Linked DNA regions of Homo sapiens. The protein of the gene in region 2 purifies or fractionates together with the protein of the main gene of each other region. This does not show direct contact. Each region holds a gene or a part of one and is shown on either strand. Other genes may lie near its edges.

What was found.
Region 1: the proteins of CCBE1 (region 2) and NOTCH2 purify together in Homo sapiens (co-immunoprecipitation; one large-scale study listed by IntAct). This does not show direct contact.

What each region holds. Positions count from the first base shown.
Region 1 is NC_000001.11:119,965,010-119,968,662, forward strand, and holds part of NOTCH2 (neurogenic locus notch homolog protein 2 isoform 1 preproprotein), read right to left. Parts: intron 3,224-3,653; coding exon 3,068-3,223; intron 2,613-3,067; coding exon 2,424-2,612; intron 1,481-2,423; coding exon 1,367-1,480; intron 558-1,366; coding exon 444-557; intron 1-443. UniProt on the Homo sapiens protein: Functions as a receptor for membrane-bound ligands Jagged-1 (JAG1), Jagged-2 (JAG2) and Delta-1 (DLL1) to regulate cell-fate determination.
Region 2 is NC_000018.10:59,430,359-59,433,004, reverse strand, and holds the end of CCBE1 (collagen and calcium-binding EGF domain-containing protein 1 precursor), read left to right. Parts: 3' UTR 1-2,066; downstream 2,067-2,646. UniProt on the Homo sapiens protein: Required for lymphangioblast budding and angiogenic sprouting from venous endothelium during embryogenesis.

The sequences.
Region 1 (3,653 bases), on a different chromosome or scaffold from region 2:
GTGTCTTTTATGCAGAATACCCCTGCACTTGTACACATTCAGCCTTTAAATTTCTGGGCCTTCTTTCAGTCACTTGCTTCAAGAAACACAGAGCCAGGCCTCCTGCTGAGAAGCCCCAGTGAAAAATAGCTTTCAACTGGATTTCTTCTCTTTCCTAAATGAGTCAATCTAGCCAGCTGGAAACTTACTGCTGCCAAAATCTGTCCCAGAAAGACATGGATACCAAATGGAAATATCTGGGCCAGACCACTGTTGTGGTGGAGGAGGCAGGTGCTGCAGAAAAAGAGAGCAGCAAAAAATTTGTTAGAAACAGCTCTTCCTAAACACAGAGGAGCCTCTGGGAGTGGACTGGCCTGGCACAGCAGCTAGCAGAGGACAGGGACAATCACCCTATTTTGTTCAGATGGACCTACCAAGGAGATGAAAAGTGAGAAGAATCTTACCTGTGGCACACTGGCATTCATAGCCATTCGGGTGATCGATACACTTTGCCCCATTCAGACACGGAGTACTGGAACAGTCATCAATATCAATCTGGCAAACTGGCCCAGTGAAACCTCAAAAAGGGACAGTGGTAACATGAGTCAAAGGATTATCTTGTGTCTCCCTTTACCATGAGAATGATGTTAGGTTACTAGCAGGGCTTATACCAATGGGTCAATAAGCCTATGCTTTATTATTCTCCCCAACAGGTAACTGGAATAACCAGGTGACACTCAGGGAATCAGAGGCACTTGTGGTGTGTCTCTACCATTGCTTCTTCACAGACAGACTTCACTTCTAAATGAAGGATGTAGGAAGTGAAATTTATAGGTGGAACCTCAAACAAGTAACTGTAGCTTCAGAGGCAACAGAAACCTTCTCTCTGAAGATACAATGGGGTAAGATGCAATCTATGGAGGACAATTTGGCATATCTTCAAAAATAGCTTGAGGAAAAAAAAGGAGAGACAGAGAATCTTGGAAAAATTGGCATGTGTTGTCTGTTTCTGAACTCATGGGTGAAATGTCTAAAAATAACAGTCTCACAGAGGGCCTTCAAGAATATGACCCATGGGAAAAAAATAAAATCCCGAATAGCCTACAACTAAGGCTTCTGTGAGGTATGAGCATTCTGAAATATATACACAGACGAAGAGGTCATGGGCCATTCAAGAATAGACTTGGACTTTTGGCCACAAAGGACTTGTAAGATATAGTAGCTAAAACAAATTCTCTATTTCTGTACACACACACTCCTATCACCAAGCACTTACTCTAATGATTTCCTCATGCACAGCCCACACACATTCTCTCCCTGCTCTCTTCCCTGTGGTCAGTTGGCTTTGTGCTTTAAGAGAAAACAGGGCCAGGTCGTGGGCACTTACCAGGAGGACACAGGCACTGGAAACGATTGACTTTATCCACACACTGCCCATTGTTCACACAAGGGTTGCTCTGACATTCATTTATTTCTAATTCACAATGCACACCTTTGAAACCTAAACAAAACAGACCACACAAGTGGCTTAAAGAGAGAGAAAGGTGTATTCCAGACAAGGAAGCACAAATTTGCAATGATAACTACATCCTTTGCGAGTACACACATTTCTGCAGAGAAAAAAGGAACTCTGCCATGATGAGAAATAGTCACTCCAAGTGTCAAGCAGGACAGGGCATACTGTGAAATACCCATGTCACTGTGAAAAGCGGGAAGGGATTACATTAAAAGACATTGGCAAGACCTAGCATATAAACAAGGACTGCTCCACATTTTCTGTGATAAATCCATACTTTCTGGACTGTGGAAGGCCCAAAATGTCCCCACTCTATGTTCCTAAAGACAAGCTGAGCTGGAGCTGTTGTTGCCTTCAGGGTGCAGTTCAAGGTCAGCAGTGCCTTTCAAGGCTGGAGTGGCCGGCAGCCTTAATCAGGCAGAGCAGCCAATGTTAGCCATCATTTCAAGCTGGATTTGGCTGTATCCTCTCAAAATTAAAGACATGGTCTATGCAGAAGAGCTCCAGAATACAACTAAACATGTACTGCACTTTAGATAAATGGAAACTTCCTATATAATTGTGGATAAAATTTATTTATATAAATGGAATGGTATGGTATTTGTAATTACATGAAGGTATCAGGAAAACTTGCTATTTAAAGGATTCTTACAGTAAATCATTTTTGAAATTTTCTATTACATGTGGATTTTGATATAACAGGCTTGTTTAATTTGGTCTACATAGCTTGATGAATTCTAGCACTGCCTTACTCTTTGAGTAAGGAAGGTTTGCTTGTGAACCCTGACTTCCTCTAGTCCCCAGTCAGCAAAGGAAATCAAATGCTGACAGAGCTCATCAGACTGCAATAGTATACTGAATGCTCTACCAAGAGAAGTTCAGAACAGTCCCTCCTCTCTAGACCCAACATGCTGATGGGCCCATTTACCTGGCATGCACAGACATGTGAAGCCTCCAATCTTATCCAGACAGGTAGCATCATTCTGGCAGGGGTCTGAATGGCACTCATTGATGTCCATCTCACAACGAGGTCCTGCATAACCCTTCAGACACTCACAGTGGAAGGCGCCATCCGTGTTCACACATTTTCCTGCATGCTCACAAGGATTGCTATTGGCTGAAAGACACAAGTACCAATTACTGGGATCAAAGCAGTTGAGTTTCCACAAATGTGAACAATAGAAGAGCATCTGATGGTTATAGCATCAGGGCCAGGCCTTCAATAATATCATTCCCAATTTTCTATTTTTTTTTCCTTAATTTAAAAAGAAATAAAAGCGGAGTATCCTCAACTGTTATGCATTTCTGCTATTGCAGTTTCTGCCCAAACTGTCATTGAGGTAGGGCTTTATATTAAGAATCAAGTACATACGTTTCATACAGTTAATCCCCAGAATGGAATATATGGTTATGGCTATGCTGAAAGGTCACTTGTAAACACTGGCCATGTAGCAAGAGTAATCTGAGGTTTGGGTGTATGTAATTTGCTTCTACAGTAAAATGTGCTTCAGTTTAAACATTTGCTGAGCTCAACAGACACTTCACAGAACAGAAAAAGTTCTGCTTACTCACCCATGGCACATTCATCCACATCTTCTGTGCAGTCAGCCCCTTTGTAGCCTTGTGGGCAGGTGCAAATATATTGCCCATTTAGGGGGTTGGTGTCACACAGTGCCCCCTTGTGGCAAGGATTGCTGATGCATGCATCATCCAGATGACACAGGAGACCTGTCACAGGGTGGGGCAAAGGACAACTAAGAGAAAATGTCTCTCACTTGGGGAAGAGCTTTCTCTTTCACCCAGGAGGGAAAACCTCATGATCAGTTCCTCAGAATCCAACATGGAGATTTATACGCAACTTCTGCTTTGCCTGACCCTACCTTGGGGACATGCTTGGCCACCAGCAAAGCACCTAGATGCAACCCTAGACTCTGACCCTGAGCTCTCAGCTAGACCTCTCCTCCAGGACAGAGACATCTACAGGCCAGAAGATAAGAAGACGGAGACAGGAAAGTGGAGCTATCTTCCAGATAGTGTGCCAGATTTAGCAAATAAAATAGAGGATGTCCAGTTGAATTTTAGATAAACAAGAAGTAATTTTTAGTATGTCTCAAATATTCCATACATCCTATATTTTATCCGGAATCCTACTTCCCCA
Region 2 (2,646 bases):
TGGAGCATGGTATTTAAAGGGTGTGGATGGATGAATGTTTAAAAAAAAACACACAAAACTATGCACAAGCTGTATGAGAGATGGCTAGGTCCATCTATGATTTTTTTTAAAAGAAGAATTTTAATACCTTTTCTTTGACAGTGAACTGTATTTAGAAATATGATCTTTATTGTGAAATGCTCATAAAATGCAACCAAACTGCATGTTTGGCCATAGGCTAGAATAATATATTAAAAGAATTAATGGAAAGTAGTATTGTCTGGGTTTCATGAAACTATTCCAGATAATATTCTCCAGCAAAACTTATGGTAACCTGTATTTTATAATGTCAATCTGCTGGACCAAGTTAATTTAGAAAATAATTTTTAATCCTCAGATTTTCAAAACTTGGACTACTGCAAGACTGATATGTACTTTTTATGCCCAAATCATATTTTTCAAAGATAGGACATCATAAGGCATCATTATTTCTAATGTATCTTTTAACTAGATAGAAAAAGCTTTACTGTCTAAACAGGACTTCTGCTCAAAACCTAATGGGAAAGCTATTTCTGGGGTAAGATTTGTAACAGTGCTTCTAGGTCATTTCATGTTTTATAGGGAAAAAGATCTTTGTACACCTCCTCAACCTGTTAGTAGAAATGTTGACTTCGATTTTTTGCACCCTCTTCACAGGACCTCATAAGTTGCCTCTGTTCTTGGAAAGCAATGGGAATAAAAATATGCTGTTGAAAATAGTGCATGGGGCCAGGCACAGTGGTTATGCCTGTAATCCCAACACTTTGGGAGGCTGAGGCGGGCGCATCATGAGGTCAGGAGATCAAGACCATCCTGACCAACACGTGGTGAAACCCCATCTCTACTAAAATAAATAAAAAAAAAAATTAGCCAGGCGTGGTGGTGCACGCCTGTAGTCTCAGCTACTCGGGAAGCTGAGACACAAGAATTGCTTGAACCCGGGAGGTGGAGGTTGCAGTGAGCCAAGATTGCGCCACTGCACTCCAGCCTGGCTACAGAGTGAGACTCCGTCTCGAAAAAAGAAAATAGTACATGGAGGGCATGCATTTTAGTTTAGGAAACCCCCCTCCCTTCCCAGTTCCAGAGGGAGAAATTATAAGCTATACTGTGCCAAAAGTGAGTGGGGCTGCAGAGAGAATGGTGCCTTTTCTCACCTTCTGAGTTAATGCCCGACATCTGCCATTGGATTCATTGACCAAAGGAAGTCATTTCTACTGTATAAACTCAGGAGTATCATAGCCCAACAAGTAAATAATAAATGTTCATTGGTTTTGGAAGGAAGGAAAGGTGAGTATTACCCCACCAAATACCAGCGAAGAGCACCCTGGCTTTGGCCATCTTTCCAAGGTTCATAATTGCTGTGGGCCTGGTGAGCCCTGTTCCCAGGTATGCAAGGGAGGGCTTCTCCAGGCCAGACATTTCTGTAGGTTTTCAGGTAGCAACTCCCCCATCATATTTTGGGTGTCATTCCCCACTCTCTCTCCCCACTTCTCAGCCTGTGCCCCAGAAACAACCACAGCAGCCTCATTCTGCAGACTTAACATCTGTCAAATAACCTTCCTGAAAAGGAAAGTTATTGGAGGAATCCAGGCCAAACAACAAGTAGAATAGAGCCATCTAAAGTTATTAATAATGAGTTCAGGGAAATAGATGAATTTTTTCCTGGCATAGTCAATATTTATATCTCACAACAAGTCAAAAATAATTTTCCATTTGGAAAACAAAACACACCATGACTGTAATTGTTAAGGCATATAATCATGAACTTCACATGCTCCCTCAACAAACGTTACTGCTCTAGGGAAATCATAGAAAAGGACCCTCTTACTCCCCAGGGGATCAAAGCAAGTCCCCTTAGGAATTTCATGTGTGCCGTGGGTCTGTTTTTATTTCACAGTGACTAGTCATATACTGGAGTAGCTCTGTTGTTCATTATTTGTAACAGGTCCATGTAACAGTCAAGTTAGCATTCAAGCAATTATGGATGTGATACTATGATGTACTTTTGTTATGATTGTATATGCTTAATAACAAAGTTATTTTTCTTACATTGCTCTACTGTGTTTTGTCTTGACACCTGGTTTTGTGAAGCAAGTTATCTTTTTACCCAGTGAACAAGGAGACGGAGAGGTACATTTCTCTTGAGAGCTGGAATCGAGAATCTGGGTCAGCCACCTCCTGAGGTCTGGGTGTGCTCAGAGCATTTGAATCTGAATCAAGGTCTGAAGGCGCAGGTACCACTGCATGTGGGTCTCAGAGATCCAGTTCCCTAGCTGAGATTCCCAGGGTGAGATTTTCAAACCGAGAACCCTCTAGACGCTCATTGGAGCTGCCTTAGGAGCTCACAAACAAGAGGCCTGTGAAGACTGAGTGCTCCCTGCCCCCAGCGCTGCACTCACAGTGACTCCATGTCCAACTAGTTTTCTGTTTGGGATTAGAATTCCATGTAAGATTTCCTCTGGGGGATGCAGTGGCAAACGCCTGTAGTCCCAGACACTGGAGTGAGAGGATCACTTGAGCCCGGGAGTTCAAGGCCAGTCTGGGCAACATAGCAAGACCCCATCCCTTAAAAAAAAAAAAAAGTTTTATTAAATGTGGCACTTTCCCCTAGAAGGGCAGAAACCCCAG